4 linked regions of the Homo sapiens genome follow. The main gene of each other region encodes a partner of the protein of the gene in region 2 in a complex. Links are inferred from orthologs where the notes say so. Each region holds a gene or a part of one and is shown on either strand. Other genes may lie near its edges.

Region 1 (7,022 bases), on a different chromosome or scaffold from region 2:
CAAAAAAAAAAAATCTTCATCAGGTGGGGAAACTGAACAGCAGCTTGTATCAAATCATACAGATGCTCTACAGCAGGGGTCCCCAACCCCCAGGCCATGGACTTGTAGGGTGGCCTCTTAGGAACCAGGCAGTATAGCAGGAGGGAGCAAAGCTTCATCTGTATTTACAGCTGCTCCCCATGACTCATGTTACCACCTGAGCTCTGCCTCCTGTCAGATCGGATGTGGCATTTGGTTCTTCCAGGAGCATGAGCCCTATTGTGAACTGCACATGTGAGGGATCTGGGTTGCGTGCTTATGAGAATCTAATGCCTGATGATCTGTCAGTGTCTCCATCACCCCCAGATGGGACCATCTAGTTGTAGGAAAACAAGCTCAGGCTCCCACTGATCCTACATTATGGTGAGTTGTATGATTATTTCATTATATATTACAATGTAATCATAATAAAGTGCACAATAAACATAATGTGCTTGAGTCATCTCAAAACCACCCCCTTCCACCCCGGTGTGTGGAAAAATTGTCTTCCACAAAACCGGTCCCTGGTGCCAAAAAGGTTGGGGATCACTGCTCTACCGTAGAGCTTGGGTTCCAGGCGGGATCTGTTTGACCTCAAGGAACGTGCTCCGTTCTCTCTCTCTCTCTCTCTGTCTCTCTGTTTTTTTTTGAGATGGAGTCTCGCTCTGTCGCCCAGTCTGGAGTGCAGTGGCACAATCTTGGCTCGCTGCAAGCTCCACCTTCTGCGTTCATGACTTTCTCCTGCCTCAGCCTCCCGAGTAGCTGGCATTACAGGCGCCCGCCAACATGTCTGGCTAACTTTTTTTTTCGTATTTTTAGTAGAGACGGGGTTTCACTGTGTTAGCCAGGATGGTCTCAATCTCCTGACCTTGTGATCCACATGCCTCAGCCTCCCAAAGTGCTGGGATTACAGGGGTGAGCCAGCACATCCGGCCATTCCCCTCTTTATGTACAGCAGGATTCCCCCATTGCGTGGGGGAAACCAAGGGATGGAACAGGAGGGGCACACCTGTCCTACAGGTGTAGAACTTGGGGCCATGGTACATGCATCCGTGGCTCCCTCAAGTTCCCCTCCCCCTCCCCAAGGCCACTTATGTTGGCATACATCATTCATTTAACAAATACTTGATTTCCCACAGAGTGCCAGGCACTGTCATAAATACTGAAGGTCCAAGAGTGAGTAAGAAAGTCCATGTTTAGATTCTACGGGGGGAGACCATCAGCAAATACAGCGTAACCCATCAGGTCCCCAGTGCAAAAAGGGACATCGGGTTGAACAAGGGAAGCAGAGCTATTTTGTAGATTGTTAAGAAGCTTTTGAGGCCTTTAAAGTAGGGAACGAAGAGTGAGCATGTTCTCAGCACCTGGCTAGGAAGAAACAAGACCCATGTCTGGAGGCTGACTCAGGCCCCACTGATGCTCGGTCCAGGGTTTCTGTGAGGTATATTTTTACTAAAATTCAGATTGGCTTCAGCTGGGCGCAGTGGTTCATGCCTGTAATCCCAGCACTTTGGGAGGCCGAGGTGGGTACATCACTAGGTCAGGAGATTGAGACCATCCTGGCGAACACGGTGAAACCCCGTCTCTACTAAAAATACAGAAAATTAGCTGGGCGTGGTGGCAGGCACCTGTAGTCCCAGCTACTCAGGAGGTTGAGGCAGGAGAATGGGGTGAACCCAGGAAGCGGACGTTGCAGTGAGCTGAGATTGCGCCACTGCACTCCAGCCTGGGTGACAGAGCAAGACTCCATCTCAAAAAAAAAAAAAAAAAAAAAATAGACTGGCTTCAAATTTTGTTTCCCGATTTATTTTTATTTTTATTTTGAGATAGAGTCTCGCTCTGTGACCAGGCTGGAGTGCAGTGGTGTAATCTCAGCTCACTGCAACTTCCATCTCCCGGGTTCAAGCAATTCTCCTGCCTCAGCCTCCTGAGTAGCTGGGGACTACAGGTGCCAACTACCATGACTAGCTAATTTTTGTATTTATTAGAGACGGGGCTTTGCCATTGACCAGGCTGGTCTCAAACTCCTGACCTCAGGTGATATGCCCATCTTGACCTCCCACAGTGCTGGGATGACAGGTGCGAGCCACTGTGCCTGGTCTGTTTCCTGATTTTCATTCTACCCTCTCTGACTCCAGGACATGGAGGTGACACATGGGACTACAAGAGTCACGTGATGACCAAATTCGCTGAGGAGGAGGATGTACGTCGTAGTTTTGAAAACACTGCTGCTGACTGGCCGGAAATGCAAACGTTGGCTGGTGCTTTTGATTCAGACCGGTGGGGCTTCCGGCCTCGCACGGTGGTTCTGCACGGAAAGTCAGGAATTGGGAAATCGGCTCTAGCCAGAAGGATCGTGCTGTGCTGGGCGCAAGGTGGACTCTACCAGGGAATGTTCTCCTACGTCTTCTTCCTCCCCGTTAGAGAGATGCAGCGGAAGAAGGAGAGCAGTGTCACAGAGTTCATCTCCAGGGAGTGGCCAGACTCCCAGGCTCCGGTGACGGAGATCATGTCCCGACCAGAAAGGCTGTTGTTCATCATTGACGGTTTCGATGACCTGGGCTCTGTCCTCAACAATGACACAAAGCTCTGCAAAGACTGGGCTGAGAAGCAGCCTCCGTTCACCCTCATACGCAGTCTGCTGAGGAAGGTCCTGCTCCCTGAGTCCTTCCTGATCGTCACCGTCAGAGACGTGGGCACAGAGAAGCTCAAGTCAGAGGTCGTGTCTCCCCGTTACCTGTTAGTTAGAGGAATCTCCGGGGAACAAAGAATCCACTTGCTCCTTGAGCGCGGGATTGGTGAGCATCAGAAGACACAAGGGTTGCGTGCGATCATGAACAACCGTGAGCTGCTCGACCAGTGCCAGGTGCCCGCCGTGGGCTCTCTCATCTGCGTGGCCCTGCAGCTGCAGGACGTGGTGGGGGAGAGCGTCGCCCCCTTCAACCAAACGCTCACAGGCCTGCACGCCGCTTTTGTGTTTCATCAGCTCACCCCTCGAGGCGTGGTCCGGCGCTGTCTCAATCTGGAGGAAAGAGTTGTCCTGAAGCGCTTCTGCCGTATGGCTGTGGAGGGAGTGTGGAATAGGAAGTCAGTGTTTGACGGTGACGACCTCATGGTTCAAGGACTCGGGGAGTCTGAGCTCCGTGCTCTGTTTCACATGAACATCCTTCTCCCAGACAGCCACTGTGAGGAGTACTACACCTTCTTCCACCTCAGTCTCCAGGACTTCTGTGCCGCCTTGTACTACGTGTTAGAGGGCCTGGAAATCGAGCCAGCTCTCTGCCCTCTGTACGTTGAGAAGACAAAGAGGTCCATGGAGCTTAAACAGGCAGGCTTCCATATCCACTCGCTTTGGATGAAGCGTTTCTTGTTTGGCCTCGTGAGCGAAGACGTAAGGAGGCCACTGGAGGTCCTGCTGGGCTGTCCCGTTCCCCTGGGGGTGAAGCAGAAGCTTCTGCACTGGGTCTCTCTGTTGGGTCAGCAGCCTAATGCCACCACCCCAGGAGACACCCTGGACGCCTTCCACTGTCTTTTCGAGACTCAAGACAAAGAGTTTGTTCGCTTGGCATTAAACAGCTTCCAAGAAGTGTGGCTTCCGATTAACCAGAACCTGGACTTGATAGCATCTTCCTTCTGCCTCCAGCACTGTCCGTATTTGCGGAAAATTCGGGTGGATGTCAAAGGGATCTTCCCAAGAGATGAGTCCGCTGAGGCATGTCCTGTGGTCCCTCTATGGTGAGTACCCCAGGCAGTTTTATCCTATGCCGTGTGCTGAGCTCTGTGTCTCTACTGCTGGGACTTGACATGACTTCCAGGAACTTCAAGGTCCCAGAGAATTCTTTCAGGATGAATGGCCCAGATGACGTCCAGCTGGCTAAAATGCCAGGACCGGAATCTGGCTCATTGTCCACACCTGGGAAAGGTCTTTCACAATACAGGGCCCCGCCTAAGACTAAAGGAAAGGCTCTGGGGTTGAAACCCAGGAATATGTGGTTTATTTTATTATTTTAAGTCAGAGTCTCACTCTGTTGCCAGGCTGGAGTGTAGTGGCACGATCTCGGCTCACTGCAAACTCCACCTCCCAGGCTCAAGAGATTCTCCTGCCTCAGGCTGCCGAGGAGCTGGGACTACAGGCATGCACCACCATGCCCAGCTAGTTTTTGTAATTTTAGTAGAGATGGGATTTCGCCACGTTGGCCAGGCTGGTCTCGAACTCCTGACCTCAGGTGATCCACCCGCCTCAGCCTCCCAAAGTGCTGGGATTACAGGCATCAGCAAGCCCCTCCCATGAATGTGACCGCTCAGGTTTGTGGACTGCTTATTTGGTATGGTGTCCAGGGCCGTGCTGTCCAGTAGAGGGTTCTGTGATGGAAATATTCCATGTGCCTTGTCCAGTAGGACAGCCACCAGCCTCATAAGCCTGTTGAGCATCTGAAACATGGTGAGTGAGACTGTGGAGGTGAAACTCATCTCACTCCATTTCAACTCATTTGTATTTTTTTCTTTTTTTGAGACAGAGTCTCACTGTGTCACCAAGGCTGGAGTACAGCAGCATGATCTTTGCTCACTGCAATCTCTGCCTCCCGGGTTCAAGCGATTCTCCTGACTCAGCCTCTCAAGTAGCTGGGATTATAGGCAGTGCCACCATACCTGGCTAATTTTTGTATTTTTAGTAGAGACAGGGTTTCACCATGTTGGCCAGGCTGATCTCGAACTCCTGACCTCAGGTGAGCCACCTGCCTTGGCCTCCCAAAGTGCTGGGATTATAGGCATAAGCTGCTGTGCCCGGCCTCATTTGTATTTAAATAGTCACACATAGCTGATGCTTGCTGAATAGTGCAGGTCTAGAAAACACACTTTGCTGGACTGTCTCAGTGTCATCCTCCTATGACCCAGAACACAGCAGTGACGAATGTGGACAGGCTGGGTGGACGAGGATTACTTGAGGCCAGGTTTTTGAGACCAGCCTGGGCAACAAAGTAAGACCCTGTCTGTGGACAGGCTGGGTGCAGTGGATCATGCTTGTAATCCCAGCACTTTGGGAGGCTGAGGTGGGTGGATCACGAGGTCAGGAGTTCGAGACCAGCCTGGCCAACATAGTGAAACCCCATCTCTACTAAAAATACAAAAATTAGCCAGGCATGGTGGCGCACACCTGTAATCCCAGCTACTCAGGACGTTGAGGCAGGAGAATTGCCTGAACCCAGGAGGCAGAGGTTGCAGTGAGCCGAGATCACGCCACTGCACTCCAGCCTGGGCAACAGAGTGAGACTCCATCTCAAAAAATAAAAAAAGCCTCAAATTATCACATGGGGCTGGGCGCGGTGGCTCATGCCTGTAATCCTAGCACTTTGGGAGGCTGAGGCAGGTGGATCACACTAGGTCAGGAGTTCGAGACCAGCCTGGCCAACATAGTGAAACCCCATCTCTGCTAAAAATACAAAAATTAGTGGGGCGTGGTGGTGGGTGCCTTTAATCCCAGCTACTCAGGAGGCTGAGGCAGGAGAATTGCTGGAACCCCGCGGGCGGAGGTTGCAGTGAGCCAAGATGGCACCACTGTGCTCCAACCTGGGTGACAGAGTGAGACTCTATCTCAAAAAAAAAAAATTCTCACATGGAAGAGGTCTGGCACAGCACCTGCTGTGTGCTAAGGCCTTGATAACAGGGCAGCTACCTTTGGTTGGAAAACAAGTACAAATGCTTGCTTTTTAGGAGGTGAGCTCATGTCAGTGCAGAAAGAAAGAACAGCTTGCCCGTTACTTTGTTCTTTCCACAGCCAAGAGGAGTCACAGCCTGGGCAATTTTCCTGTAGATTGGCTGAAAACGTGCGCAGCCACAGGCTAAGCACTGAGATGGGAAATTTACATATCATAAAAAGTCAAAGCTACTTGTGTTCACAGCTACCCTGTGCTATACTTACATTCATTCGCTTTCTTCTTCTTTTTTTTTTTTTTTTTTGAGACGGAGTCTTGCTCGGTCACCCAGGCTGGAGTGCAGTGGTGCGATCTCAGCTCACTGCAACCTCCACCTCCTGGGTTCAAGCGATTCTCCTGCTTCGGCCTCCCTAGTAGCTGGACTACAGTTGCCCACCACCACACCCGGCTAACTTTTGTATTTTTAGTAGAGATGGGGTTTCACCATATTGGCCAGGCTGGTCTTGAACTCCTGACCTTGTGATCCTCCCATCTTGGCCTCCCAAAGTGCCGGGATGACAGGCGTGAGCGACTGCGCCCGGCCTCTATTTTTCTTTTATTCTTGAGGGCAAACCCATGAGGTTAGCTCCCTGTTCACAAACGTGGGAAGGTATACACTCAGACACGTGGGAAGGTATAAACTCAGACAGGAGATGATTGCCAGTGGACGGGAGACTAATTGCTCCAATTTTTAGGTGTACGATACAATATTAACTACAGGCACGACATTGAACAATGGATCTCTAGAACTTTTTCATCTCACATCACTGACCCTTCATGCCCATGAAACGATAACTCCATCTCCCCTGCTCCCCAGGCCCCCGGCAGCCTCCACTCTACTTTCTGCTATTTTAGACATTTCAAAGTAGAATCATGAGCCCAGTGTATTGGTGGCTCACGCCTGTCATCCCAGCACTTTGGGAGGCCAAGGTGGGTGGATCACTTGAGGTCAGGAGTTTGAGACCAGCCTGGCCAACATGGTGAAACCCCATCTCTACTAAAAAAATACAAAAATTAGCCAGGCATGGTGGTGGGCACCTGTAATCTCAGCTACTTGGGAGGCTGAGGCAGGAAAATCACTCGAATTTGGGAGGCAGAGGTTGCAGTGAGCCAAGATCATGCCACTGCACTCCAGCCTGGGAGATAGAGACTCCGTCTCCAAAAAAAAAAAAAAAAAAATGTAGACTCATGCAGCATTTTGCAGTATTTGTCCTTTTGTGACTGGTATAGCTCACCTAACATAATATCCTCCAGGTTCATCCACACTGTCAAAAACGGTAGAATGTCCTCCTCTAAGGACGAGTAATATTC
Region 2 (7,022 bases):
TACATAAAAATGCTTCCCAAGGTGACAGTAAACGTCAAACTATATTACAATATTTCATCTAAGTGTGTAATTTAAAAAATCTCGTCTTCCCGGCCGGGTGTGGTGGCTCATGCCTGTAATCCCAGCACTTTGGGAGGCCGAGGTAGGTGGATCACGAGGTCAGAAGATTGAGACCATCCTGGCTAACACGGTGAAACCTCATCTCTACTAAAAATACAAAAAGTTAGCCGGGCGTGGTGGTGGGCGCCTGTAGTCCCAGCTACTCGGGAGGCTGAGGCAGAATGGCGTGAATCTGGGAGGCAGAGCTTGCAGTGAGCTGAGATCGCGCCACTGCACTCCAGCCTGGGCGACAGAGCAGACTCTGTCTCAAAAAAAAAAAAAAAAATACCAAAAAGTACCGTTAAGTTTTCCATTGCGGTCCAGACGCGTTTTGGTCATCATTTATTAATACACACACACACACACACACACACAGACACACACACACACACACACACAGCCAGATGATGAAAAGAGAAAACCAAGATCAAAATGCAACAGGGTACCAAAAAATGAAAGTAACAGGTAGTTGTAATTCACTCAGCAAGTGTTTTTGAGAATCTACATGCCACAGCTCCAAATAATGTTGGTAGAAATACATTCTATGTAAGTTGTAAAAATTTAATCTGTTAATGATAGCTTTGTTTGAAGTTGTGCCATATTGTTTGCCCTTCCTCAATAAATAGATCAAGTTCCAAACATCTGAAGTCTTTTTCTACATGGCCAGCAAACGATGAAAAACAAAAACATGCCTGCAGGTGGATCACTTGAGGTCAGGAGTTCGAGATCAGCCTGGCTAACATGGTGAAACCTGGTCTCTATTAAAAATGCAAAAATTAGCCAGGCGTGGTGGTGGGCACCTGTAATCCCAGCTACTGGGGAGGCTGAGGTAGGAGAATTGCTTGAATCCAGGAGGGGGAGGTTGCAGTGAGTTGAGATTGCACCACTGTACCCCAGCCTGGGCAACAGAGCAAGACTGTCTCCAAAAAGCCATCTTCCAAATTGGTAAATAATCCCCGAGGAGGCCAGAAGAGTAAGAAAATACAGATAAAAGACCGATGTGCTGAAAAATGGTGAAGCTGGGTGTACGGGGGTTACTGTACTATTTGTCTTTATTTTGTATGTTTGAAAGTTTCCATTAGTCAAAGGGAAAAAAAAGGCAATCACTCCAAAGAAGCATAAGGGAGATGGGCCCTTGCCTCAAATAAGCTGGCATCGAGCCTACCCCTGCTTCAACCTCATTTTCCTTCCTAGAGGACAAAGGGCAATGGGTGCCTTTTGAATTCTGAAACATGTATACATAATACCTATTCAAACACATCTTTCAAAACTTTCAAGGTCCTGTACTAGTGAGGACCTTAAACATTATTCTTAGCTGGTTTTCCAGCAATTCCCCTCTTGGGTCTGTCTTAACGTACGAATTGTGCCTGAAAGATACCAGATACTCCTCCATGTACAACTCATTTATGGGGACATGACCATCCTAAGTGGAGGAGCTTACTGAATGCCTACTGCTTTTGCACCATCATAAAGTTGAAAAATTGTCAGGTTAAGGTCAGGCGCAGTGGCTCATGCCTGTAACCCCAGCACTTCCAGAGGCCAAGGCGGGCACATCACCTGAGGCCAGGAGTTGGAGACCAGCCTGGCCAACATGGGGAAACCCCATTTCTACTAAAAATACAAAAATTAGCCGGGCGTGGTGGTACATGCCTGTAATCCCAGCTACTTGGGAAGCTGAGGCAGGAGAATCGCTGGAACTCAGGAGGCAGAGGTGGTAGTAAGCTGAGATCGCGCCACTGCACTCCACCCTGAGCAATAGAGCAAGACTGTCTCAAAAAAAAGAAAAGAGAAAAGAAAAATCGTTAAGTTAAACCATCTGAAATCAGGGACCATCTATACCCACACATCAATATTATTTACAATGTAAATTTGGAAACAGCCTGAATACTAAGCAAAAAAATAATTAAATTATGATATATCCACAGGATTATTCAGCTACTGAAAATAATGACAGAATATCATTGAAATGATGTCAAGTGAAAAAAGCAAGGTGCAAAAGAATATAAACTGTAGAAAAAGACACGATGGAAATATCCCTGCATGTGAATCATTATGGTGATTCTTCTTGTCATTTCCCCCCGAAATTTCTAGCATCCTGAAAGGCCACCAACATTTTTGTCTTCAGTAGTCAATCCCATTGTTCACAGCCTTCCAAAGACTACAGACTCCCTTAAATAGGCATGGCATTCCAAGATCCAAGATATTCTAGAATATTCCTTCCCTACTCCCTTGTCCCCACTAGCTTTCCTCGCCTTGGAATGCCCTTTTCTGTTGTTCGTATTCTCCTCTCCTGTTCATTCTTCTCGCCTTTCTGAGTAGGGTCTTTTCAACCTAGTAGGAAAAATAACTTCCAGTCTTAACCTCTATTACACAGATACAAGACCCAATGTGAAGGTTTGAAAATAATAACATCTATTCTCTATAGTAGGGGTCCCCAACGGGTCCATGGCCTGTCACGAACCTGGCTGCAGAGCAGGAAGTCTGTCACTCCCCACTGCTCGAATTACCACCTGAGCTCCGCCTCCTGTCAGATCAGCGGTGGCATTAGATTCTCAAAGGAGTGCCAACTCTACTGTGAACTGCACACAAAAGGGATGTAGGCTGCATGGTCCTTATGAGAATCTAATGCCTGATGATCTGTCACTGTCTCCCATCACCCCCAGACGGGACCATCTAATTGTAGAACAAGCTCAGGGCTCCCACTGATCCTACATTACGGTGAGTTGTATAATTATTACATTACATACTACAATGTAGCAATAATAAAGTGCACAATAAATGCAATGTGCTTGATTCATCCCCAAACCATCCCCTTACCCCTCACCCCACCCAGTCCATGGAAAAACTGTCTTCCATGAAACGGGTCCCTGGTGCCAAAAAGGTTGGGGACCACTGCTCTTTAGCCTACCCAGGCCAGGCGGGCCCTCACATTATAACATACTGCCAATGAGTATGGGGTTATCCGCATGGCTACTCACTATGCTGCACCTCCACTGCAAAGACATGCTCACTGCTTCATGTTAGATTGCTACAAAAGCAGTCTGTATAGAAACAGTCAAAAATTCAAGCTGATTTCTACATTCTTAAAGAACTAGCACCATAGGCATTTTGTTTCCCAGATCTGGGTTTTTTAAATATGGTAGCTTTAGAGTCATATGAGTAATTCCTTTCAGACAGCTCAAGAAATGTAAATCATCTCTACGGCTTCAAAAGAAACCTGGCTTTTTAAAGCCTTCCCCTCGCTCCCTTAGCCATTCCTCACTTCCCTGCCCACGGCAGCTGCTCTTCATACTCAGCTTGCGGCAGGTTGGGGGTGGATCAGTGACTCCTCTTCAGCTACTGTCATTACGTGTTCAGCTGGCCACTGCTGTCACTGTCATACTCCCAACTCGGACACCCCTGCTCAGAGGAAAGCTGGGTACCTGGGTCCCACTCACCAAAATGGGCTTTCTCTCTCCAAAGACAGGTACCCTTCCAAAGGTTAAGAAGCCCAAGAGTTTATTTGGAATAATTTTATTGTTTTAATGTTATGTTAAAAATCTAAATTATGTAAGAACACTCTCTTTCCTATTCACAACCAAAACTTTTTTTTTTTTTTAGAGACAGAGTCTCACACTGTCACCCAGGCTGGAGTGCAGTGGTATGACCTCAGCTCACTGCAACCTCTGCCTCTTGGGTTCAAGTGATTCTCCTACCTCAGCCTCTCTAGTAGCTGGGATTACAGGCATGCGCCACCATGCCCAGCTAATTTTTGTTATTTTTAGTACAGATGGGATTTCACCATGTTGAGCAGGCTGGTCTTGAACTCCTGACCTCAAGTGATCAACCCACCTCGACCTCCCAAAGTGCTGGGATTACAGGCGTGAGCCACTACATCCGGCCCATAACCAAAACTTAATGCCATGCAGCACATATTAGTAGTATTCAACTCAGGTAAAGAAAAGTCTATTTCTGTAGGACACACACTTAACAAGTGAAATGCTGGGAGCAATTTAACTAAGACTTCACCAGTTCTTTAAACAGAAAGAAAAGACTCATGCACATGGTCTTTTAAGATTTACAATTTTTATTTTTTCTACAAAATCATGGTAGCAAACCAATTATTTATAACTATTTACCTTAAAATTAAAGCTTTCTTTTGGGAATTTTTTTTCTTTTTTTCAAGATGGAGTCTTGCTCTGTCACCCAGGCTGGAGTGCAGTGGTGCAATCTCAACTCCCTGCAACCTCCACCTCCCAGGTTCAAGTAATTCTCCGGCCTCAGCCTCCCAAGTAGCTAGGATTACAGGTGCATGCCACCATGCCCAGCTAATTTTTTGTATTTTTAGTAGAGACAAGTTTCACCATGTTGGTCAGGCTGGTCTCCAACTCCTGACCTCATGGTCCACCTGCCTCAGCCTCCCAAAGTGCTGGGATTACAGGCGTGAGCCACCGTGCCTGACCCAGGGAATTTTTTAAATCAGTTTTCGTGTAACTAATTTTCTACCACTCAAATTCATAAATTCATTTAGCAAAATATCAAAATTTTCAAGATTTCTACAAATGACAATTTTAAGTAAAATAATATGTTTTGGTAGTTAATCAAAATGATAGCTGACACCTAAAATGGAATTTGGGGAAGATACAGAAAAATAATTCTGAGAGGAGAGGCCATAAGGCAGCTGGTATTGGTAGCCTTTGTAGAAAGGCAACATTTAGCTGCATTATAATTATAGACCGGGCTGGGTGTGGTGGCTCACACCTGTAATCCCAGTACTTTGGGAGGCCAAGATGGGCAGACTGCTTGAGTCCAGGAGCTCAAGACCAGCCTGGACAACATGGCAACACCCCGTTCCTACAAAAAACGGTACAAAAAAATAGCCAGGTGTGGTAGCATGCTCCTGTAGTCCCAACTACTTGGGTGGCTGGGGCTGGAGGGTCGCTTTAGCCTGTGAGGTGGAGGCTGCAGTGAGCCATGCTCCAGCCTGGGTGACAGAGTGAGACCTTGCCTCAAAAAAAAAAAAAACAAAAAACAAGCAATCAAACGCACACATAATTATAGACTGGAATATCTGGTAAAACACTAAGTAACTTTCAAAAGAAGGCAAAGAGAAGATAACGTTTTATATCATTTAAAAGTAGTATTTCCCTTTGACTACCGAGCATAGAAAGTGGTCCTTGAGGCTGGGCACGGTGGCTCACGCCTGTAATCCCAGCACTTTGGGAGGCTGAGGTGGGCAGATCACCTGAAGTCAGGAGTTCGAGCTCAGCCTGGCCAACATGGTGAAACCCTGTCTCTATCAAAACTACAAAAATTCACTGGGCGTGGTGGTGGGTGCCTGTAATCCCAGCTACTTGGGAGGCTGAGGCAGGAGAATCACTTGAACCTGGGAGGCAGAGGTTGCGGTGAGCCGAGATACCACACCACTGCCCACTGCACTCCAGCCTGGGTGACAGAGCAAGACTCCGTCTCAAAAAAATTAAAATAAAATACAATAAAATAAAATAAGGTTAGGACTGCTGATATTGGGAATGGGCAAAGAAGGGAAAAGTAACTACTTTTCCCATCCAGCTCCTGACAGCCACAATGTACTGAATGTCTTGTGCTGGCGTCCCATCAGTTAAGAGCCTCATGCTGCAGGAGCTCCCCAGTCTCAACCCTGCATCCTACTCATTAGGAAACCACTACCACACAGGCGGCAAATCACTGATAATAAAGCCAGCCTTAGGGCTGAAAACGAGTCACTAGAACACCAGCAAAATTTCCATAATCCCCAAAGAGTTAACGATTTGCTCAGATTTCAAGTAAATTGTTCTTATTTATTTGGGTGAACATTATACAGTGTTCAAGTTCCATAACTTTTTAAGTGGAAATACAGTACAAACGTAGCTAAAGCTAATTCCCTTTTTTCAGTTCAGACGCTTGGAAATGAAGACAAAGGGATAGACAATTATCGCTGGCTGTGAGCTGTTGTGGGCACTCCATTATCGACACATTCCTGAATAGGTGCTGAATTCCAGCCAGCTGTAGTCCAGACCGGCATCACTTTTTAAAAATAACCACTTTCTCTCTTCTTCAACATAGGTGATGGCTGCACAACACGGAATGTACCCAATGCCACTCAATTGCACTTGAAATCTGATGTGACTATGTGACAGTTATGTTACGCAACTTTTACCTCGATAAAAACACATCGTTTTCTCCACTCTTTTCAATAATTTAAAGATTGGCTTAATAAATAAGGCTTCCCTGAGTACAAGAGATGAAATCCTACTCTTAGGTTTGCAGTTAATCCAGGACTGCAATGAGGATGAACATTTAGCGCCATGTTGAATCTCAGTAGAATTCAAAAAACACATAGATTTCCAAAATAATCAGAAAAAGCACTTAATATCTGCTTCAGTTACTGGGAAGGCTAACACATGAAAGGCAAGCTGTATGATCTGTATTCTTTCCACGCCCAAGAAGAGAACAATTCAAGCCACATGACTTAGAATAATGGTTGGCAGAACTCCACCTCTGAAGAGTCTACAGAGGTACCATTACTCCATTAGTGATAATAGCTATTGATCTCCTGGAAGAGCCTGGGGGGGAGGGGGAATGGAATATTTAAGATAGAAAGAATTTGAAAGTCTATTGATCCCACTAGGAATATTTAGAAAAATTATGATAGCCTTTTGCCACCTTTGCCCTCCCACCCCTCATTGAGTTAAACTGCTTAACTCAGTAACTTCAACAAAATTAGTAACCCTGAACCTTTTCTCCCCAAGGCAAGTACCAGTAGCCTATTTAAAATATTAACTTCTCAAGAGACTAGTAAAAGTCAAAGGACAAGACAGTATTGTCTAATACGTAGGATACATCTAGGTGTTCACTCTCCTTCAATACAAGACTAAACATCTGTCTTAAAAGACCTAACATTCCTCTTTCCTTCTTTTCAAAAT
Region 3 (7,022 bases), on a different chromosome or scaffold from region 2:
CAAAGTACAGATCACTGGAGCATAACTATAGTAACTCAATAAGGTAAAAGGAATTACTAACTAATGTACCAAGAGGTTTAAGTGAGCAAATCAAAATTGGTATAAATTTGGGTGAAAAACTAAAGCAATGGAGGTTCCAGCATTTTAGAGATGGGTGGCAGTAACAATTCTCTGTATTGGAAATCCACTTTCCTAGGGCAATTGGCCAGGAAATTTAAAAACATCTCATTTATATTGTAAATAAATTTACACAGGAAAAACTCTTTTTGCAGCAGCCCAGATGATTGTAAATGAAAGCCCAAAAAGTCAACTGATGACTGGAAATTAGCATGGGTTACCGGTGGTAGATGGCCCTGTTCTGCAACTGCGTCGGTGACACTGCATGACCTCAACCTTGAGGAGGGTTCTCTTTGCTGGAAGGAGAGGAAAAGACAGGAAGCATCAAGAAATATATTCTTAAAAGCAACTTTCATTGGTTTAACAAACATATCACTCAACCATATTCACCGCTCTTCGATATTAGAAGGTAATTAAATGAAACATCTTTTCAGAGCAAGGACAGTCATCCTTGAAAAAGTTATCTTTCACTTTAATTTTCAGTTAAGCAGACTGGAATTTTGATTGGTCCTTAGAATTAGTGGCAAAAGTAAGAGGAGACCAAAACTTTCAGAAAGGAGACTCAACAGGACTCTGCAACACTCTAATGCTGCTTTACAAACAGAAAGAAGCTAGCAGTCTTGTAGTTTGCTCTAAGATGCACCCTCAGGGTAAATTTTAATGTGATGTGAATAGACGGAAGAAATAGTGATATGTGGCTACCCAACATTTATTGATTACTACAATTGAAAAAGAGTCAGTTGCATCCTATATTCAGAGGAGCTCAGACATCATCTTGGCCTACTTCTGAAAGATCTGGTATTTATAATTTTAGCTGCTTTTTTTTTTTTTTTTTAAATATAGAGTCTTGTTCTATTGCTCAGGCTGGAGTGCAGTGGCATGATCTCAGTTCACTGCAACCTCTGCCTCCCAGGTTCCAGTGATTCTCCTGTCTCAGCCTCCTGAGTAGCTGGGACTACAAGCCCCCCCCACCACACTTGGCTAATTTTTTGTATTTTTAGTAGAGATGGGGTTTCACCATATTGGTCAGGCTGGTCTCGACCTCCTGACCTCAGATGATTCACCCACCTCGGCCTCCCAAAGTACTGGGATTACAGGTGTGAGCCTCCATGCTCAGCCAATTTTAGCTTCTAAGTGGACTTCAAGTAGTAAAGACAGGAATGATTAAAAATAGTGAGATCAAGCTAAAAAAAAAGATCTACTGTGTAGTGTCTTAATATTCCTCTAACTTGTTTGTATTAGTCTATGTGGTTAAATGAAGCCTAATTGATATGAATGAAGATTAGCAGCAGGTCACACACAGAAGCCAGAGTCTCCTTATCGGCAAGTTCATCCATAGTATCAGTTTCTAGTATTTACTCATTTTTAATATTTTGTGATAAGTAAATGGTACAAGAAGACTCTGTGGTAGGGATGGGGGACAATTCACATCTTCCCACATTGGTTACTGTGAAAGAATCAGTCTTTAATAAAAGTGTCACTCTGTTGCTCAGGCTGGAGTGCAGTGGCGCAATCGTGGCTCACTGCAACCTCTGCCTCCTGGGTTCAAGAAATTTTTGGGCCTTGGCCTCCTGAGTAACTGGAACTACAGGTGCACCCCACCACACCCGGCTAAGTTTTGCATTTTTAGTAGAGACGGGGTTTCACCATGTTGGCCAGGCTGGTCTTGAACTCCTGACCTCAGGTGATCCGCCTGCTTCAGCCTCTCAAAGTGCTGGGATTATAAGCATTAGCCACCGTGCCCAGCCAAAGCTCATGTTCTTCCCCTTGAATACAGGGTAATCCCAATGAGCAAATATCCGATTTGACTCTCATTTAACAGTGAACACGATGTGAAATAATACAACATTGTATTTGGGTCTTAATGATATTTCACAGATCTAGAATAATTAAATTCAGGAGCTCCTCATTTAAATAATTAGAATTGCTAACTTATGATTATTGCTGAAAAAAATTACAGTGTTTACTTGGTTTACTAAAGGTGTGTTACTGCCATGGATTCTGTGGTACCTCCTTGCTTTTATAGGTTTTAAATACAAGGCTTCATTGTTTATGTTGTTTCTATAACAACAGTTTTATCAGTTCAAATATCCCATATATATGCAATTTCTTTTATCCTGTCCATTTAGTACTACATTTTCATCTTGGCGACACATCTCTTTTTGAAAAAGTCACAGAATTTCAAAGTGAAATCACATTAACTGAATGATAAATGCAACTCATGTAATAGAGGCGTATACTGTCTTTTAAAATAAAAACACCATAACCAAAAAGTAACAATTTTGTGAGTACTTACTTGCTTTTACATTGTATGCAGTGCTATCATTTATGTTTGTTATGGTCATAGTAATGACTATTTTTTTTTAGGATGCCATTTTCAGTGGAGTGACTATCATCATTTACTATTGTACATTTTTAAGTTCAGTTTCTTGAGAAACACTGAGACTTCATTTGCTCTTAATTCTATGCACAAGCAGGGATTTTCTATGGGTTATTTCTGCACAGTTTTGTATTGTCAAACATGGAAGTCTTTGTGACTGATTCCATTGGGCTCAGGCATTGGGCCCATCTGAAGCTTCTAGAAAGTATGTTTCTGATGGTTGAGAGCCCAAGTTAAAATGCTACCTTGATGACAGTGTCACAATTTCACAACATTTCTCAAGGGTTCATACTCTGGGACTTAGGAGACGTCTTCTATCTCCCACTCAAACCTTGTCTTGGATGAGCCACTTAAGCATTGTGCCCTTATCAGCGAAATGAGAATGATAAATCCTGCAGAATATGACTTAAGAGGACTGATTAGGCCTGATGGCTTTTAATTGTTACTGTGAAATACTACCTTTGTGATAAAGGTACTATTTTCATGAGCCTTTTGGCTGGGAAAGGAATTCTACAAGGTTAAAGCTAATAATTACAGACATCATGGAGTTTTACTTCTTTGAGTTCTTTATAAACCAAGAAAGTGTTAGTGGTATAAGGGTGAGCAAAGCTGCCTTCCAAATCAAGAAAGATTCTCACCTGCTTGGGCTAATTTTAGTACAGTCCTGCTTCTCCTAGGGAAGGAGGAACTTTGGAAAATGTCAGAGTTAGCTGGGAGCTGGAAGACCCTTGGTCACTATTTACGTAAGAGATTCTCCTTAAGCAACAAAAAACAATAAAACATTGCTCAGCTTTTCTTTCAAACAAGGCCACTACTTACAATCAAAGAGCTGAACTGTTCCCCATTGGAGTCTGGAGTGATCTGAAGCCTTCTGCTTAGTTCCTCTGACAGCTCCTGAGGGCTGGTCCGAGATCCTGGGGAGGCCGGTGGTGGGGGCAGAGCCAGACCGAGAGAGTCTCCAGCGATATTCACTTCCTCTGAAATGGTCTCCCAAGGCTTTCAGAGAAGGAGACACTGGGGTAAACACTAGAAAGAAGTAGGGATCCACCCAGCTCCCCAATGAAACCATGTAACAACAATAGCCCCGGTGATAACTATAATTAACACCTACTAAGTGCCTCTCATGAGGCACACAACCTTCACAATAATCACGAGGAAGATAACTCCCCCAATTAACAGATGAGGAAACTGAGGCACAGAAAATAACCTGCCCAAGGTAACATCTAGCAAGTGGTAGGGCCATGATGTGAATCAAAGAGGCCTGGTTCCAGACAGAGGCTGTGCTCTTAACCACTTTATAACAATGCCTCTCTGAACAGTGACTGATTTCCAGCACTTGTTACTATATGTGTGGGCAAAAAAACAAACACACACACACACTTCTCTGGAGTTTATAAACAATTGTCATGGATTTTCTTTTACTTTTAACCACTGAGGATTCACCGTGGGAGCAGCATAGAAGCTATACGCTGTAATTAAACAATGGTATAAAATAACTTAGAGTGAATGTGTTATGGAATCATTACTTTTGCTTTTCCAAGTTGAATCGCCGCATTCTAAATGATCTTCCTAACACAATGTCTAAGAAGAATGGATTTTTAGTACATAAACAGAGCTGGTAAGATAGCATGGAAGATTATGGCTAATTTGTTGTTTAATTCATAACGTTTTAAGTAACATACCATAACTATTTAAAGGGAAAATTACACATTTCTGTTCACCTAAATTTATATTTTCATGGTAATAAATCTCTTCCAAGTGTCAAAGCGACTCAATAAAAATATGCATATGATACCCAAACAAGTTACAGGGCTCATTCAACAGCTCAACTATGATAAAAACAAGCTGTCATTTAATGAGACATGGTTAGACCCCTGTGAAAAATAAATTACAAACTAAAAATATCTTAAGATTTTCATACTGAAAAATAATGTGGGCTGGACACAGTGGCTCACGCCTGTAATCTAAGCACTTTGGGAGGCCAAGGCAGGTGGATCATGAGGTCAAGAGTTCAAGACCAGCCTGGCCAACATGGTGAAACCCGTCTCTACTAGGAAAAAAAAAAAAAAAAAAAATTAGCCATTGTGATGGCATGCACCTATAACCCCAGCACTTTAGGAGGCTGAGGCAGCAGGCGGATCTCGAGGTCAGGAGATTGAGACCATCCTAGCCAACATGGTGAAACCCCATTTCTACTAAAAATACAAAAACTGGCCGGGTGTGGTGATGCGTGCCTGTAATCCCAGCTACTCAGGAGGCTGAGGCAGGAGAATTGCTCGAACCCAGGAGGCGGAGGTTGCAGTGAGCCAAGACTGCACCACTGCACTCTAGCCTGGGCGACAGAGCAAGACACTGTCTTCAAAAAAAATAAAAATAAAAATAATGTTATTCCCATTTCTATAATATAGAGCCACCTATACTTGTCAAATACGGCTTTTATAGGCACTTTCAAATTAATATTCAGATGGTAATTAATTCCCTGCGTCACTGTAATCTTTACATTCTCAACAATGTTTACTGACAGAAGAAATTATGATATAAAATCAAGCTGGAGAACATGGGAAGAAGGAGCTGCCGGGCTTTGCACCATTCTGGGGACATCGTACCTCGGGGACATCCCCGCCCTCCGAGGGCTCGGGCTCCAAGTCTTCGCTGATGTGCCTGCGGGAGCGGAAGCGCCGGTGTGCTGCCTCCTGGTTGATCTGTCTGATGTTATTGTCCGACTCCGAGGACACGTCCCTGAGCATGCAGGAAAGGGGGAAAGAGAAGAAGAGAAGTGGTTGAGATCGGGCCCTTCATGACAGTTCAATGCTCACGGAGGGCCAGATGGCCACTAAAGTGTCAGCGTCAAACACTGACAACTAGCTGGTCATCCAATGTGAGAATTCTCCCACCATATTACGGCTAAAGTATAGGTTAAGGTTCATTTCAATCAAATAAATGCAGTTTTAAAATGCATTAGTCACACCATTTTGAGCATCTTTCAGGCATACATTTCAAAATATACCTCAGTGTTTAATAAAAAACAGAAATCAAAGTCCTCTGCCCATTTGCCACAGTGACAAGTCAGACCTCTGGAAGCAGAGGTGACAGGCAAGTTCACACAGCAGCTGGGCAGTCCCAATCCTTCTAGAAGTCCAGCAATGACAAGGCAGCTACTTCTGGTCACCAGCAATTTGACCAAAGACTACAAAAGGGACAAATTCAAAGCTGTCATCTGGAGGAAAGTACACCTGATCCAACATGAATTTTTTTCAGCTGCTTTCTAGCTCATTTTAACAGAATCTCAAAATCGTGACACTGCATTTACCTCCTTTACCCTACTTTAAAAATCCTAATAACATCAGGAGATAACCTCTCAAGTCAGCCGGGGTCTGAAGAACACCAAAACATCATACCCTATTTTTTGTCATGTGATGTTCTCAATTCAGGATCTAAAAGTTTTGATTCAATTTGGAAGACTTTTTTGGGCTGGGCATGGTGGCTCATGCCTGTAATCCCAGCACTTTGGGAGGCCAAGGCGGGCGGATCACTTGAGGTCAGGAGCTCAAGACGTACCTGGCCAACATGGCAAAACCCCGCCTCTACTAAAAACACAAAAATTAGCCGAGTGTGGTGATGCGTGCCTGTAGTCCCAGCTACTCAGGAGGCTGAGGCAGGAGAATCACTTGAGCCCAGGAGGCAGAGGTTGCAGTGAGCTGAGAGATCATGTCACTGTACTCTAGCCAGGGCAGCAGAGTGAGACTCCATCTCAAAACAAAACAAAACAAAAAAAAAAAGAAAAAAGAAAACTTTTTTTTTTGCAGTAAATTATAGGCAATCATACTTTGGGGGAAATACTAGTCAGAGGCTTTTAGTGTACAAGTTTAAATGCCAAAAATTTTTTCAGGGAAAACTCTCACAGATACTTTCAATAAGATAACATATCCCATTAACAAAAATTATGTCACAAGTCAGTATCTCAAAAGTTGAAATCGTCATTTCAGACTAACTGAAATATAGTACTTATCAAGAACACTCATTATAGACTCTTTCTAAAACACAAATTTTAAAGTTTTCTCACACATTCTGAAATGAACTTATACTGTATCCCAATAAAGGGCCTGCTAGCAGAGGTTGTGGTGGAAACTCTTTTTCCTTAACTAACTTTCCTCTTGCCTTCTAGAAGTTATGCCCATTGGAAGGAGGCGCTCCTCAGGTTCTGCCAAGTTCTGCTGTGTCCTTCCTGGCTCAGCCTCTCCCTTTGGCATTGCTGCCTCCTTGATGGGGCAGTTATGCCTCTGCCTTCTCCCAAAACTACATGTGAGCCCGAACTTGGATTAAGAACTGCATTTTTCAGCCGGGCGTGGTGGGTCATACCTGTAATCCTAGCACTTTGGGAGGCTGAGGTGGGCGGATCACCTGAGGTCAGGAGTTTGAAACCAGCTTGACCAAGCCAGTGAAACCCCATCTTCACAAAAATACAAACATTAGCTGGGCATGGCGGCGGGCGCCTGTAATCCCAGCTACTCAGGAGGCCAAGGCA
Region 4 (7,627 bases), on a different chromosome or scaffold from region 2:
TTTTGTATTTTTTGTAGAGACGCGGTTTCACCATGTTGGCCAGGCTGATCTTGATCTCCTGACCTCAAGCAATCCGCCCGCCTCCGCCTCCCAAAGTGCTGGGATTACAGGTGCGAGCCACCATACCCAGCCGTTGCAGTATTTTTCAACAATAAAATTGAATGCCAACAAATCCATGTCGAACAGGAAAATCAAAATTTTAATATTTGTTGGTAATTTTGTTTAATCAAAAGCTGGGATGGGTATTGCCGGGTTCTCCATGCTGGGTATCTGCATGGCTTCCTGTTCCTGAGCCTGGCTCTTGGGCCAGCAGCCTCTAGACCACTCACTAGGACCCCCGGGAGAGAGGCCAGGTGGGGCTCCTTCCCAGCGTGAGACCTCCGGCCCCTGGAATTGCTCTCACCTGGGGAACTGCTTGAGCCGATTTAGAATGCCCTGATAATTCAGCGTCGGAGAGCTCTCAGAGTTCGAGATCCCAGGACAAGGCTGGAAAGGTCAAAGCAAGGTTACATAAAACTTACAATGCTCCAACACCCAAGACCCCCGGTCTCCACCTCAACATGGCATAGGCATTAGGTTGGTGCAAAAGTAATTGTGGTTTTTGCTTTTTTTTTTTTTTTTGGAAACCGAGTCTTGCTCTGTCGCCCAGGCTGGAGTGCAGTGGCACAATCTCAGCTCACTGCAAACTCTGCCTCCCGGGTTCAAGCGATTCTCCTGCCTCAGCCTCCCGAGTAGCTGGGATTACATGCGCCCGCGCCCCCCTCCCCCGCCCGCCCCCGGCAACACACCTGGCTTATTTTTGTATTTTTAGTAGAGATGGGGTTTCACCATCTTGGCCAGGCTGGTCTCAACCTCCTGACCTCATGATCTACCCGCCTCGGCCTCCTAAAGTGCTGGAATGACAGGCATGAACCACCGCGCCCGGCCTCTCTTATTTCAGTAAAGAGCATCTTCCATTTTGCACTTTGGCCTAAAGTCTAAAATGTTCACCACATTCTTGTGATGAAAATAGAAGCACAAAATATTTTTAAAAATAAAAGTCCGGGCAAGGTGGCTCATGCCTGTAATCCCAGCACTTTGGGAGGCCGAGGTGAGCAGAACACCTGAGGTCAGGAGTTTGAGACAACCCTGGGCAACTCAGCAAAACCCCGTCTCTACTGAAAATACAAAAATTAGCCGGGCGTGGTGGCGCGCACCTGTAATCCCAGCTACTCGGGAGGCTGAGGCAGGAGAATCACTTGAACCTGGGAGGTGGAGGTTGCAGTGAGCCGAGATCGCGCCACTGCACTCCAGCCTGGGCAACAAGAGCAAGACTCAATAAAATAAAGTCTCTTGGCCAAGTGTGGTGGCTCACACCTATAACCCCAGCACTTTGGGAGGCTGAGGCAGGCAGATCACGAGGTCAGGAGCTCGAGACCAGCCTGGCCAACATGGTGAAACCCAGTCTCTACTAAAAATACAAGAAAAATTTGGTGGTCATGGTGGCAGGTGCTTGTAGTCCCAGCTACTCGGGAGGCGAGGCAGGAGAATCACTTGAACCCGGGAGGCAGAGGTTGCAGTGAGCTGAGATTGCGCCATTGCATTCCAGCCGAGGTGAGTGTGAGACTCCGTCTCAAACATAATAAAATCATAAAGTCTCAAAACAAAATATCCCTCATCTGACTCCTTTACAAAAAAAAACGTCTGCTCAGCCCTGAGAGCCTAAATTTACAAATGGTCATCTCTGGGACGCAAAGTGCAGGGAGCGGGGATTGCTTGTAAAACATCAACCAAATACATGATGTGTTCCTGTGTTTTTATCACATATGTGATTAGATGCTACATTTTTTTTTAGATGGGATCTCACTGTCACCAAGGATGGAGTGCAGTGGCACCATCATAGTTCACTGCAGCCTCAAACTCCTTGGGCTCAAGCCAACCCTCTGCCTCAGCCTCCCAAGTAGCTGCAACTACAGGCCCACGTCACTAGGCCCAGCTGATTCTTCTAGTTTTATTTTTTACAGAGACAGGGTCTCACTACGTTGTCCAGGCTGGTTTCAAACTCCTGGGCTCAAGTGGTCCTCCTGCCTCGGCCTCCAAAAATGTTGAGATTACAGTTGTGAGCCACAGTGTCCAGCCTACACTTAATTTTTTTTAAAAAACACGGCTCCTTGGCACCTGTCTTGAGTGTAGCAGCGACCAGTATTGTCTTCAGCTGCGAGGCCTGGGCGGGGCCAGCCCAGGTCACAGGTGGAAAAGGGGCAGAACCACATTGGGCCCGGGTTTCCCTTGAGGGCTGATCCCACCACATGCCCTCCTCACCGAAGTGCTTTTCGGGGGGCCCTTGGGTCTGGGCTGGTCCCTAGAGGTCATCTTCAAGGCAGTAGCCTCCAAGACTTTAGCCAGAGTCTAAAACAACAAGGAGACGGCAGGTCTTGAGGGACAGAAAATAAGGCAGTGCCAGGGAAGCAAGGCACCCGTTACCCCACCCGCACCTCCCAGTTTGGTAAGTCTCCAGGGACCCAATCCTGCGGTTCTCCCATGCGTTCCCTAGGTCCTGTCCTCACTTATCAATGCCTCCAGCTGCCCAGATTCATGGGGGCGGGGACCCAGAAAGAACTGAGCCTTGCCTCCCAGGCCTCACCCTAGGAGGCTGGGGTGGATAGTGCACATACACTCCCTGCTGGGGGCAGTCAGGGACGGGGGAGCCCAGGGAAGGTCGCCAAAGCTCAACCTTAGTTTTGAGACAATTTCCTAAAGCGCAGGGAGATCACTAGAAAGGGGTTTTGAAGGATGACTAGGAGTTAGCCAGGTGCATTAGGCGGAATTCATCAGACAGAAGAAACGACCTCTCTCCACCTCCATCCCTGCTGCAGCACCCAGCTTCTTCCTTGCCTCAGTCCTGCCCCTCCACGCCCCTGCAGCCCCTTCCCCGGCCGGGAATCCTGGAGTCCCCCCAGCCCCCTAGAACACGCCTGGCAACTCACGTCCCTCACCGGGCGGAAGCTGCGGAGGTCAGCCAAGTTCAGGCCAAGAGGAAACTCCTCCTTCCCCCACCGGGGGCCATTTGACCCATCGGGCCCCGCCTCGTCCCGCCTTGTCCCCGCCCCGTCCCGCCCAGGCCCCACCCAGCCGCCACCTGGACCGCGAAGCAGATCAATGAAGGCGCAGTAGCTGCACGTGGGTTCGGGCTCCGGGGGGGGCAGGCCTCTGGCGGCGCCGGCCAATAGCGAGGCCGTTTACGCACGTGGGTCGCGTACGCCCTCCCTGATTGGTCGGCTCTCCCCGGCCGCCGGCCATGCTGTCACTCAGCGAGCCGGGAGCCTCTGCTTTACCCTTTCGGTCCCGCTGCCGGGAAGGGCGGACTTGCAGAGCTATAGGCAATTTGGGGTCCCAGCGGGGGCGGGGATATTTAGGAGGGCGTGGGGCTTGAGGCTCAGAGGCTGGAACTTGGGCAGGGATAGGTGGCGAGTAGTTGCATTGTTTTACGCATTTTTAGCCTTGTCCGGAAGTGGCTTATGGCTGGAGGTGAGGAGTGGGAGGTGGGTGGGTTCAATCTTTAGCGCTGTCACCCCAATTCTTAGATACGGGCTAATTACATTTTCCTCAATATTAAATAACGTGCAATGCAAACGAAGCTTCAAGTCCTCTTTCTGGAGCCAACTTACTGGGTCCCCTTGATGGTCCCAGCCCCGGGCTATGCATTTATCACCGAATTTTCCCAACTGCTCTTCCAGCCCAGTGACAAAGGCTCTGAGAGCAGAAAGCGGGACAGCAGAGGCCCTGAGGCTGATACAGTATTGCCGGATGCAAGCGCGGGGTGGGAGAGAGTGGTGGGTATTCCAGACGGAGGGAATAGCGGAACCTCTCAGGCAGAGCTGGGCTGGTTACAGGAGCAGCCAGGGAGGCTAACGGGGCTGCGTGCACTCCGAACAGGCCTGGGATGATTTCCGAGAGGTAAGTGGGTTGCTGCAGAGCGAGAGAAACCTGCTGTGTGGGGTCGTGGGGATAGGAGTAAGGGGATTTCGGAGTTTTGTTTTGGCCTATTCAAAATATGAAGCCAAGTCACCATGGCTCACACCTGTGATCCCAGCATTTTGGAAGGCTGAGGTGGGAGGATTGCTTGAGGCCAGGAGTTGGAGACCAGCCTGGGCAACACAGTGACACCGCGTCTCTACAAAAAATTTAAAAATTAGCCAAGTGTGGTGGTCATGCACCTGTAGTCTCAGCTACTGGGGAGGCTGAGGCAGGAGGATGGCGTAAGCCCAGGAGGTTGAGTCTGGAGTGAGCTATGATCGTGCCACTGCACTCCAGTCTGAGCAACAGAGCAAGACTCCATCTCAAAAAAATATATAGCTATAATATATATAAAGTATATATATTATATATATAGTGGTCAAGCTGCAGTTCTGGAGTGAGAGCCCGTTTCTTTCTGTTTGGCCCAGGACCTGGTACTGGCATTAGCAGTTCACTCTGCCAGGGACAGTCTCTCTCAGACAGCCACCGGCTGGCTCCTTACTCCCTCAGCTCCCTACTTAGAAATCACCACGTTGGGCCAGGTGCTGTGGTGCACGCCTGTAATCCCAGCACTTTGGGAGGCAGAGGTGGGTGGATCATCTGAGGTCAGGGGTTCGAGACCAGCCTGGCCAACATGGTGAAACCCCAGCTTGGCCGGGTCACACCTGTAATCCCAGAACTTTGGGAGGCCGAGGCGGGTGGATCACGAGGTCAGGAGATCGAGACCATCCTGGCTAACACGGTGAAACCCCATCTCTAATAAAAAATACAAAAAAATTAGCCGGGCGTGGCGGTGGGTGCCTGTAATCCCAGCTACTGAGGAGGCTGAGGCGGGAGAATGGCGTGAACCCGGGAGGCGGAGCTTGCAGTGAGCCAAGATTGCGCCACTGCACTCCAGACTGGGCGACAGAACAAGACTCTGTCTCAAAAAAAAAAAAAAAAAAAGAAAACCCCAGCTCTACTAAAATACAAAAATTAGCCAGGCATGGTGATAGGCACCTGTAGTCCCAGCTACTCTGGAGGCTTAGGCAGAAGAATCACTTGAACCTGGGAGGCGGAGGTTGCAGTGAGTCGAGATTGTGCCACTGCACTTCAGCCAGGGTGACACAGCAAGACTCTGTCTCAGAAAAAAAAAAAAAAAATCACCACATCAGGCCAGGCGTGGTGGCTCACGCCTGTAATTCCAGCACTTTGAGAGGCCGAAGCAGGAGATCACTTGAGGTCAGGAGTTCCAGACCAGCCTGGCCAACATGCTGAAACCCTACCTCTACTAAAAATACAAAAATCAGCCGGGCACGGTGATGCACATCTGTAATCCCAGCTACTTGAACCTGGGAGGCAGAGGTTGCAATGAGCCAAGATGTCGCCATTGCACTCCACCCTGGGCGACAGAGTACTCTGCCTCAAAAGAAGAAAAGAGTTCATGACCAGCCTGGCCAACATGGCAAAACCCCATCTCTACTAAAAATACAAAGGTCAGCTGAGTGTGGTGGCAGACGCCTGTAATCCCAGCTACTTGGGAGGCTGATGCAGGAGAATCGCTTGAACCCGGGAGGTGGAGGTTGCAGTCAGCCAGGATCGTGCCATTGCACTCTAGCCTGGGCAACAAGAGTGAAACTCCATCTCAAAAAAAAAAAAAGAAGGGAGGGAGGGAGGGAAGGAAGGAAGGAAGGAAGGATCTCATTGAAGAGACCTCCCAACCCTCCCTTCCCTTCCCTATATTTCCCTTTATTTCCTCTTTTTTTTTTTAAACACAGGGCGAGGGGGAGGGGAGTCTCAGTACATTGCCCCGGCTGGTCTTGAACTCCTGACCCCAAGTGATCCTCCCACCTCCACCTCCCAAAGTACTATGGATTACAGGCATGAGCCACTGTGCCGCCACCGGGCCTGTATCTCCCTTTCTTATTTTATTTTTTTCCGAATGTGGTTTGGATTGCAGCTAATCTTGTAATCTCAGTGGCTCCTGTGGCGGGAGCCTCCCACGATAGCTCTAAGCCCTGCATGTTCTAAATGCAGAGAATGCTGTCAGGATTCTCCTACAGAGACGCCTCCCATCCTCTGACCTCCCCATGTGACACAAATGCCCGATAGGTCTGCTGACTTCAGATCCAAACCCAGCCAGAGAAACTCTTCCCTGTTTTCTGTTCTGTGCTCTCTCGCTGCGGGGAACTGAGGGTTTCAATGCTGGGACAAGTAGCCCCCAGAGGTGGTGATGTGCACACGTGACTTGGGTTTTGCAGCTGGTCCATGGAGAACAAAGGGAGGGGCCGTCATGAAAGACCTGCAGAAAAGCTTCCCACCCACGAACCCTCCACTGTCCCATAATTATTATTTTTTAATTTTTATTACTTATTTTTTTGAGACAGAGTCTCTCTCTGTCCCTCAGGCTGGAGTGCAGTGGCGCGATCTTGTCTCACTGCATCCTCCACCTCCCAGGTTCAAGCGATTCTCCTGCCTCAGCCTCCCAAGTAGCTGGGACTACAGGCGCCCGCCACCACACCCGCCTAATTTTTGTATTTTTAATAGAGATGGAGTTTCACCATATTGGCCGGATCGGTCTCAAACTCCTGATCTTGTGATCCACCTGCCTTGGTCTCCCAAAGTGCTGGGATTACAGGTGTGAGCCACCACGCCTGGCTATTATTATTATTTTTTTGTGACAGAGTCTTGCTCTGTCGCCCAGGCTGGAGTGCAGTGGCACGATCTTGGCTCACTGCAACCTTTGCCTCCTGGGTTCAAGCGATTCTTCTACCTCAGCCTCCTGAGTAGCTTGGATGACAGGCGCCCGCCACCACACCACCTCCAGCTAATGTTGTATTTTTAGTAGAGATGGAGTTTCACCATGTTGGCCAGGATGGTCTCAAACTCCTGACCTCAAGTGATCCACTCATCTCGGCCTCCTAAAGTGCTGGGATTACAGGCGTGAGCCACTGCACCCAGCTGCATAATTAAAGTGTGTTTTATTTATGGTCCAGCCTCCTAATATGGGCTTTGCTTTTTCCCCTCCCTCTGATTGTAGACTTTCAGCTGGGCACGTTGCTTTATCCAAGACTCACAGGGTTGTCTCACAGGGTATCCAGTAAGCACATGTGGCTATTTAAGTTAAAATTAATTAAAATGAAATACAATTTAAAATTCCATTCCTCAGGCACCCTGCCCGCATGTCAGGCGCTCAGTCGTCACTGGCGTCTGGGGGTCACCGTACTGGACAGCGAAGATCTAGAACATTCTGTCATCACAGAAAGTCCCAGTGGACAGCACTGATTGGAGGCTCCTAGGAAAGAGAAATTCCTCCAGGGTCCATGTAGAAATCGGAAGCACATTTTCAGTAGTCATTCCATTTCTACTCTTTTTTTTTTTTGAGAAGGGGTCTCACTCTGTTGCTCAGGCAGGAGTGCAATGGTGCAACCTCAGCTCACTGCAACCTCCACCTCCCGGGTTCAAGCGATTCTTCTGCCTCAGCCTCCTGAGTGGCTGGTATTACAGGCACGTGCCACCACACTCGGCTAATTTTTGTATTTTTAGTAGAGACAGGGTTTCATCATGTTGGCCAGGCTGGTCTCGAACTCCTGACTTCAGGGGATCCACCCCCACCTCGTTCTCCCAAAGTGTTGAGATTACAGGCCTGAGC

The links.
Region 1: the proteins of YWHAG (region 2) and NLRP5 are in contact, whole or in part, in a cryo-EM structure (PDB 8XI3), measured with the Mus musculus proteins. The link is inferred for Homo sapiens from one-to-one orthologs. Residues at the interface, in NP_061359.2 of Mus musculus: Phe201, Tyr216, Thr220, Met223, Gln224, Arg227, Asp228, Thr231, Ser235; in NP_035990.1 of Mus musculus: Ser1030, Cys1031, Ser1055, Gln1058, Cys1059, Pro1060, Val1061, Glu1084, Phe1087, Val1088, Lys1089.
Region 3: the proteins of YWHAG (region 2) and NEDD4L are in contact, whole or in part, in a crystal structure (PDB 6ZC9), measured with the Homo sapiens proteins. Residues at the interface, in NP_036611.2 of Homo sapiens: Lys50, Arg57, Arg61, Lys125, Arg132, Tyr133, Gly174, Leu177, Asn178, Val181, Tyr184, Glu185, Leu225, Asn229, Leu232, Trp233; in NP_001138439.1 of Homo sapiens: Pro444, Arg445, Ser446, Leu447, Ser448, Ser449, Pro450.
Region 4: the proteins of YWHAG (region 2) and TLE6 are in contact, whole or in part, in a cryo-EM structure (PDB 8XI3), measured with the Mus musculus proteins. The link is inferred for Homo sapiens from one-to-one orthologs. Residues at the interface, in NP_061359.2 of Mus musculus: Lys50, Arg57, Arg61, Lys125, Asp129, Arg132, Tyr133, Gly174, Leu177, Asn178, Val181, Glu185, Phe201, Asp202, Ile205, Ala206, Leu208, Asp209, Glu213, Tyr216, Lys217, Thr220, Leu221, Ile222, Met223, Gln224, Leu225, Arg227, Asp228, Asn229; in NP_444484.1 of Mus musculus: Phe137, Leu138, Ser139, Glu140, Ser141, Asp142, Leu144, Gln145, Leu295, Arg347, Asn430, Leu447, Gln470, Met472, Asn489, Asp510, Asn511, Thr512, Met530, Pro553, Arg555.

Annotation. Positions count from the first base shown.
Region 1 is NC_000019.10:56,024,757-56,031,778, forward strand, and holds part of NLRP5 (NACHT, LRR and PYD domains-containing protein 5), read left to right. Parts: intron 1-2,156; coding exon 2,157-3,753; intron 3,754-7,022. UniProt on the Homo sapiens protein: Component of the subcortical maternal complex (SCMC), a multiprotein complex that plays a key role in early embryonic development.
Region 2 is NC_000007.14:76,348,970-76,355,991, forward strand, and holds part of YWHAG (14-3-3 protein gamma), read right to left. Parts: intron 1-7,022. UniProt on the Homo sapiens protein: Adapter protein implicated in the regulation of a large spectrum of both general and specialized signaling pathways. Binds to a large number of partners, usually by recognition of a phosphoserine or phosphothreonine motif.
Region 3 is NC_000018.10:58,327,209-58,334,230, reverse strand, and holds part of NEDD4L (E3 ubiquitin-protein ligase NEDD4-like), read right to left. Parts: intron 5,237-7,022; coding exon 5,104-5,236; intron 3,494-5,103; coding exon 3,317-3,493; intron 414-3,316; coding exon 339-413; intron 1-338. UniProt on the Homo sapiens protein: E3 ubiquitin-protein ligase that mediates the polyubiquitination of lysine and cysteine residues on target proteins and is thereby implicated in the regulation of various signaling pathways including autophagy, innate immunity or DNA repair.
Region 4 is NC_000019.10:2,972,959-2,980,585, reverse strand, and holds the start of TLE6 (transducin-like enhancer protein 6), read right to left. Parts: upstream 3,023-7,627; 5' UTR 2,976-3,022; exon of another isoform or gene 2,967-2,975; intron 2,389-2,966; 5' UTR 2,353-2,388; coding exon 2,302-2,352; intron 487-2,301; coding exon 404-486; exon of another isoform or gene 179-403; intron 1-178. UniProt on the Homo sapiens protein: Component of the subcortical maternal complex (SCMC), a multiprotein complex that plays a key role in early embryonic development.